2 linked regions of the Homo sapiens genome follow. The protein of the gene in region 1 purifies or fractionates together with the protein of each later gene. This does not show direct contact. Each region holds a gene or a part of one and is shown in the gene's direction. Other genes may lie near its edges.

Region 1 (3,747 bases):
GGATCCGAGCTCCGAGTACGTGAAGGGGCGGGCCTTCGGGCTCGGAACAAGGAGGAGCCAAAAGCTTTGGACCCGAAGGGGAACAGACGGGCTCTGGAAAGGAGGCGGGGTCTGGAGCTCGGCGTGAGGAATGAGGCGGGGTCTCCCTTCGGGTTCCTTCGGGCACAATCGGGAGCTTGAGTTCTCCGGAAGCGGGGCCACAAACTTCGGCTCACTTCGGCAATAGTCGAGAACGGAGAGCTGAGGCCACTGTGGGCGGAGCCACATGTTTCGGCTTTCTTCGGAGGTAGTCGAGTCCTTAGGGTCACTGTTCCGATGTGGGCGGGGCCACAGACTCGGCCGGATGTGGGTGGGGCCACAAGCTTCGGTTTACTTCGTAGATAGTTGGGTACAAGTGACGCTAGGATGATAGGCGGAGTCAACAGGTTCGCCAGACACCCATGAGTATTTACAAGGGGGCGGGGCGAAAGCGACTTGCCCTCAAAGGGGCGGAACCCCGAGGGCCGGCGTGCGCCTACGGGACCGGGCCAGGATGACGATCCTCAAGTTCCCAAGTAGAGGAGAGGAAGCGGCAGAGGGAGGTGCGCTCAGTGGGGCGGAGCCAAGGTGGCCCCCGCGGGAGGAGGGCGGGGCTTCGGTCCTGCGAGGGGCGGGACCTGACTTCCCGCGGCGCTGATGGGGCGGGATGACGAAGTTGACGAGGGTGTCGGCATGAGGGGGTGGAGCAAGGAGCGCGTGGCGCGGTGCGCAGTGGGTGGCTCCACCTCGACTGCGAATTACTGTTTATGAGGTGACTCGCTGGTTCTATCGGTGGACAGTGGGACATTCTGAAGGGAGGCAAGGAGGCGGACTGAGCGCTCCCAATTGGGGTGAGCCCGCCCGAGCGGAGAGTGGACGGCGGGTGTCCAGGGGGCGGGGCTTTCGGCTGTGGGGTTCGGTCGTAGGGCGGGAACTCCCCAACTGGGGTGCGCTGGCGCTCGGAGGGGGCGGGGCCACAGGCCGCGAGGCTGCCGGGAGCCGATGACGCCCGAACGCCGAACCTATTGCGTCCGGGAGGAGGCGGGGCTACGGATTCGGCCGAGCCGAGAACACCCGAACGTCAAATTGCTGGCGTTCGAGAAGGGGGCGGGGCTGCGGATTCGGTGGAGCCGAGGACGCCCGAACGCCGAACTTCCTGTGCTCGGGAGGGGGCAGGGTTTTGTACTGTGGGAGTCTGAGAGCGAGGAGGTCCGAAAGCCGAATCACAGTCGTTCGGAAAGAGGAGGAGCGAAGGCTCGAGCGTCCGGAAGAGGGTGTGGCCTCGGCGGTGCCTTAGCCTCCAGAGCTTCTGACCGCTGACGGGAACACCCGAAGGGGGACGCCCACTTTGCAAGAGGGTGGTGCCAAAATGGACCTTTGTAAGGGGGCGTGTCGCCGCGCTTGCGGAGGTTTGTTTTTCACGCTCCAAGGCGCAATGGTAGGTACGGCAGTGCGGGCACAGAGCGGGTGCCGACCGCAGGGTCACAAGGGTAGAGCGGGACCCTGGGGGCTTGGCGAGGGGAGAGGGTCGGGGGCTTGTCTCCGGCGTCTCGTCTCCGGCGGCCGCGAGGCCTGGTGGGATCGCCCGGGGGCGGGGCCTGGCGCTCGGGCCCAGCAGGTGGTGAACGGCGGCTGAGCGAGGCCCCGCCCCCTGAGGCCTAGGGGCGGGGCTTCGCCGAGACCCCGGAGGCTTTGGGTGCGCTGCAGCGGTCCGCGGCGCGCAGCTGTTTCGGTAACTGCTTTGCCTCCCGGCTCCCGCAGGAGGATGCTGGTGGTGGAGGTGGCGAACGGCCGCTCCCTGGTGTGGGGAGCCGAGGCGGTGCAGGCCCTCCGGGAGCGCCTGGGTGTGGGGGGCCGCACGGTAGGCGCCCTGCCCCGCGGGCCCCGCCAGAACTCGCGCCTGGGCCTCCCGCTGCTGCTGATGCCCGAAGAGGCGCGGCTCTTGGCCGAGATCGGCGCCGTGACTCTGGTCAGCGCCCCGCGTCCAGACTCTCGGCACCACAGCCTGGTAAGGGGGCGGGGCTCGAACTCGGGTTCGGTGGGAGCGGGACCTGGGAGTCAAGTTTCCTGGCTTCTGAAGGGACCATAAGCTTGGAGGTTCCAGCGAAGTGTGCTTCTCAGGCCCTGACATCCTTCAAGCGCCAGCAAGAGGAGAGCTTCCAGGAGCAGAGCGCCTTGGCAGCTGAGGCCCGGGAGACCCGTCGTCAGGAGCTCCTGGAGAAGATTACGGAGGGCCAGGCTGCTAAGAAGCAGAAACTAGAACAGGCTTCAGGGGCCAGCTCAAGCCAGGAGGCCGGCTCGAGCCAGGCTGCCAAAGAGGATGAGACCAGTGATGGCCAGGCTTCGGGAGAGCAGGAGGAAGCTGGTGAGCATGGGAGGTGGAGTCCAGGGACCACGGGAAGGAGAGGAGAGATCTTTTAGGAATTTTAGCTGGGAATCCAGTGCCTGGGTCTCCCTGAGGGTGAGAAGACTTTACCCCTTGAATTTACCAAACTCTTCTCTGTACTCCCCACCAGGCCCCTCGTCTTCCCAAGCAGGACCCTCAAATGGGGTAGCCCCCTTGCCCAGATCTGCTCTCCTTGTCCAGCTGGCCACTGCCAGGCCTCGACCGGTCAAGGCCAGGCCCCTGGACTGGCGTGTCCAGTCTAAAGACTGGCCCCACGCCGGCCGCCCTGCCCACGAGCTGCGCTACAGTATCTACAGAGACCTGTGGGAGCGAGGCTTCTTCCTCAGTGCGGCTGGCAAGTTCGGAGGTGACTTCCTGGTCTATCCTGGTGAGTATGGGTTGGGGCCTCTGGTTGCTGTGCCTTTCCATACGATCCCAATGTATTCTGCGTTTTTCTTTTTTTTTTTTTTTGTCTTAATAGAGGTGGGGTCTCTTGTTGCTTAGGCTGGTCCCTATTCCTGGGCTCAAGCAATCCTTCCACCTCGGCCCCCCAAAGTGCTGGAATTATAGGCCCAGCTGCATTTTTCTTTTTTGTCTCACTTTCTCTTAGCCTCTGAAATTCATAGACAGACAGGAAACATTTGGGAGCTCCCGAACTCATTGGGCAAGCAGTTTAACGACTTTTATTAAATGATTACTGTGATCCAGAAGATTCACTTAGAAGTAGTTAGACATCAGGCTGGGCGCAATGGCTCACGCCTGTAATCCCAACACTTTGGGAGGCCAAGACAGGTGGATCACCTGAGGTCAGGAGTTTGATACCAGTCTGGCCAACATGGTGAAACCCCATCTCTACTAAAAATACTAAAACTAACTGGGCGTGGTGGTGGGTGCCTGTATTTCCAGCTACTCGGGAGGCTGAAGCAGGAGAATCATGTGAACCCAGGGGGCAGAGGTTGTAGTGAGCCAAGATCGTGCCATTGCACTCCAGCCTGGGGGACAAGAGCGAGACTTTGTCTCAAAAAAAAAAAAAAAGCCTAGAAGTGGAATAGTTGTGTCCAAGAGCATCTGTTTTAGAGTATCTATAGTGATGGCTGAAATGATCTCAGATCTCCTCCCAGTGGTCGTTCCCGTGGCGTCCAGCCGTCTGCCATTGGTCACTGCTTCAGTGCCTCTCTCCTTCCCCCAGGTGACCCCCTCCGCTTCCACGCCCATTATATCGCTCAGTGCTGGGCCCCTGAGGACACCATCCCACTCCAAGACCTGGTTGCTGCTGGGCGCCTTGGAACCAGCGTCAGAAAGACCCTGCTCCTCTGTTCTCCGCAGCCTGATGGTAAGGTGGT
Region 2 (3,747 bases), on another chromosome or scaffold:
AGAGCGAGACTCCGTCTCAAAAAAAAAAAAAAAAAAAATTAGTTAGTATTAGTGCCTAAACAGTTGTGTGAATTTACAGCTTTCACATTGGGAAAAGTATTTGTTTTTTCCTGTAAGTTTTGGAATCAGCCTGAAAGTTTGTAACTTAAAGTATGAATTTTTCATTAATATTTTCTCAATAGCAATTTAGGGGAATTTAGAATCAGATGATGCAAATTTCATTTTCTGTATATTTGTTCTTGGTAGGACAAATATTCTTTTTAAACAGATTTATTTCATGATTACTTTTAACATGCTTTTTCTGTATTTTCCAGTTATTCTGTCATTATCGAGCTAGTTGATGACCATTTTGAAGGCTCTCTCCGCAGGCCTCTCAGTTGGAAGTCCCTGGCTGCCTTGAGCAGAGTTTCCGTTAATGTCTCTAAGGTAACACAACATCAGCTTTGCCATTGGAGTGTCACTTAAATGGTTCAGTTTTTTTTTTTTTCTTAAATGTAGTAGAATCAAAAAAGTTAGTTGTAGAAACTTCATAACATTCCTGCCAGTGACATGCTGGAAGATTTGGGGTCATTCGTACCCTTCCCTTATTGCGCTAGAAGTTGTCCTCCCCTCATGTTACATTTTATTGTCCCCTCCCTCCCAACTGCTGCTGAGCTCCAATGACGGAGCTTTGGAGTGTCCCATGGTGATCTGATCTGGGTAGGCATTGCTTCTCTTCCCAGGGGTATCGTTGCTATGTGACTTGTTTTATACTGCAATTTAACATTCACTCATACACATATTCACAAAGGAGTCAAAACATTGAAAGTTTGCAGATCTCTTAGAGAGGAAGGGACTTGATATTTGTTGCTAAGCACTTTCCCACCCTGTTGTTATCCTCATCCTGAGGATGAGAAACCAAGGTTGGAGCCGTTGAGTGGCTAATCCAAGATCACACAGCTCATGTGCATACTCGGGATCCAAACCCACAGCTCTCTGGCTCCCTGGCTTTTGTTTCACTATATCCTTCGTGTTGCCATCAGAGATAGGAGGGACTCAGCTTACACAAGGACTATCAAGAAAGAAAGCTGTGTGTGTTCTCATTACTCAGTGATTTGCTGGCTGAAAACAAATTGTAGATACCCTCTAATTTCATCCTCATGCTGCTGGAGGTGAGGTGGGGCTGAGGCCAGAGGGTCTTGCAGGGCTAGAGATGACTGCCCTTTAGAGCAGGTTAGGTTGCCTAGGCTTTAGCTTGGTCCTATAGAAAATTAGGGAGCCTATACTGTTTCTAGAATTTTTATGCCCATTTTAGGGGACTTGTAGCATATACTTAATATGTCCTCACTTAACATTGTTGATATGTTCTTGGAAACTGCAACTTTAATGTCGTATAACAAAACCGTTTTTTCTTCTCATCATTTCAAGAAAACAATGTTGAAGTTTATTTGAAGACCTGCTGTACATCTGTATTAGTCCATTCTCATGCTGCTATAAAGAAATACTTGAGACTGGGTAATTTATAATGAAAAGAGGTTTAATTGACTCACAGTTCCATGTGGCTGGGGAGGCCTCAGGAAACTTACAATCATAGTGGAAGGCACCTCTTCAGAGGGTGGCAGGAGCAAGAATGAGAGGATGAGTGAAGGAGGAAGCCCCTTATAAAACCATCACATCTCATGAGAACTCACTGTCACAAGAACAGCATGGGGACCGTCCCCCATAATCTAATCACCTCCCACGAGGTCCCTCCATGACACGTGGGGATTGTGGGAACTACAAGATGAGATTTGGGTGGGGGCACAGCCAAACCGTATCAACATCATTTCACTTAAAGTCCGTGTCCAAGAACCTATCAAGGACATTTGAGGACTTACTATATTTAGTATTCTTAATGCTGTGTTTATAATCAATGTATCTGCTTATATCTGTTGCCATGTTCAGTGATTACTAAACGGCAGGTACTTAGTCAGAACGTAAATCCCAGTTATGGTTTCCCCAGGAGGAAACTGATGTGCTCTGTGAGTTTCCACTTGGAGTGCACAGTGAGAGGGACTGGAGACCACCTGCATTTCCTGCTGATGCACCCAAATTTGTACTATTATTTTGTAGGATACAGAAGTGGTTTTTCATTTCTCAATAGGAACTTATGCTGTGCTATTTGATTAAACCCTCTACTATGACTGACAAGGAAATGGAGTCACCAGAATGTATGAAAAGGATTAAAGTTCAGGTGGGTAAACTCAGAGAAATTCATGTCATCCCAAAGATTCTGTGAATCATAGTGTATCTGGAACATGTGGTCCCAAGAAAATACATGAATACAGTTTTGCCTTGGTAACAGAGCCTTCTCAGGCAGGCTCTTAAGTCTCTCACCTTTTCCCCATTGAACCCATTGGACACGAAATCTATGCTGACTTCCTCTATTCCTTAATTCCCCACTTTATTACCTGTGATGTCCCCATCACTCAGCTGAAACTGCTCTCTTACAGGTGGCCTGTGACCCCCTGGCCAGGCCAGGACTTCTCACAGGTCTCATTCCCAGAGACCAGAGGTGTCCCTGTTGACTTGTTCCTGCTTCTGGGCTTCTGTATTGAACCAAGGCGCCTCCTGTCATCTTGGCTTGTTTCTCTCTGGTCTGGCCGAGTTGTCTAGTGTGTGTCCGTGTTTCTGCATTCCCTCCCTCTGTGTGTAGAGCCTTAACGTTGCCATTGGCTCCTCCCAACATCCAGTATGTCTTTGTTGTCGTCCTGTCTTCTTTTCACACCACCCTGCCCCTGCAGACCTGCTGGTCGGTCTCCAGGGCCCCAGCACGTCTTCCCTTCAGTTGGTCCCACTTATCTCCACTAGGCTAGTTTCTCATAAAATGCTCATCAACCTCATTTCTCCCTTCTCAGTAGCTGGCCCCGTTACAGCAATGCCATCACAGACCTAGCTCTAATGTAAAATGCTAGCTTTCATCCCGCCCACCTGTTTCTGAAATGTGCTAGTAGAATACCACAGCAGAGGCAAGCTTAGCTGTTAAAATCTTTGCCTGGTGAAAGTAGATACTGTATGCTTGTAAGGTTTATATTGTTACATTCATTTTCTCCAGATGTTTCTGTTCTAAAGGTGGGAACAGTATCATCATTATATAGACCGCCCTTTGTGAAATGTAGCTGTGGTGTCAGCTGTGGTGTCAGAATGGTCTTACATTTCTGTTTTAAGAAATGGTCTTTTTTTTTATTGGTTGTAGGAGGTGATTCTGAGTCGATGGGTTTCTTCACGAGAGAGGAGTGACCAAGACGATCTTTAACAATTCAACCTCAAATTTCTAATTTCACCAACAACTATTTATTGAGGGCTAGGTAAAAAGTTCTTTTTGTTGTAATCGTCCATTAATTCATAAGTTTTAAAGGGCATGGTGCTCCCAGCACCAGAAAACTATCAGTGTTTTTAAAGATAAATTACACAAGGGAGGAGAAAGATCCCTGTGCTAGGACTGCAGATTCTATACTTGCGTTGGCCTCTAACTCTCCAATCCAGAGCCTCCTGCCTCTGGCGTCAGTCTTTTCCCTCATCCACTCACTGGGGAGATTGGACTAGAGGAGTCCTGAGAGGACACTTCCAACAAGAGACATTTATTCTCTGATTTTACCTGAAAATGGTAGTAGTTTACATTTATACAGTACAGTTTATGAAGCACTTTCATACGCAGGCATCTCTTGTTACCTACATCTAAGCTGTTCCCGAAAGAGTGTTACAGAACACAACAGTATTGTACAATAT

The links.
Region 2: the proteins of TSEN34 (region 1) and TSEN2 purify together in Homo sapiens (affinity purification with mass spectrometry; 4 studies listed by BioGRID and IntAct, with this or other methods). This does not show direct contact.

What each region holds. Positions count from the first base shown.
Region 1 is NC_000019.10:54,189,582-54,193,328, forward strand, and holds the start of TSEN34 (tRNA-splicing endonuclease subunit Sen34), read left to right. Parts: upstream 1-1,726; 5' UTR 1,727-1,783; coding exon 1,784-2,026; intron 2,027-2,139; coding exon 2,140-2,383; intron 2,384-2,534; coding exon 2,535-2,792; intron 2,793-3,593; coding exon 3,594-3,747. UniProt on the Homo sapiens protein: Constitutes one of the two catalytic subunit of the tRNA-splicing endonuclease complex, a complex responsible for identification and cleavage of the splice sites in pre-tRNA. It cleaves pre-tRNA at the 5'- and 3'-splice sites to release the intron.
Region 2 is NC_000003.12:12,529,448-12,533,194, forward strand, and holds part of TSEN2 (tRNA-splicing endonuclease subunit Sen2), read left to right. Parts: intron 1-314; coding exon 315-426; intron 427-1,407; coding exon of another isoform or gene 1,408-1,431; exon of another isoform or gene 1,432-1,715; intron 1,716-2,122; coding exon 2,123-2,212; intron 2,213-3,214; coding exon 3,215-3,274; 3' UTR 3,275-3,747.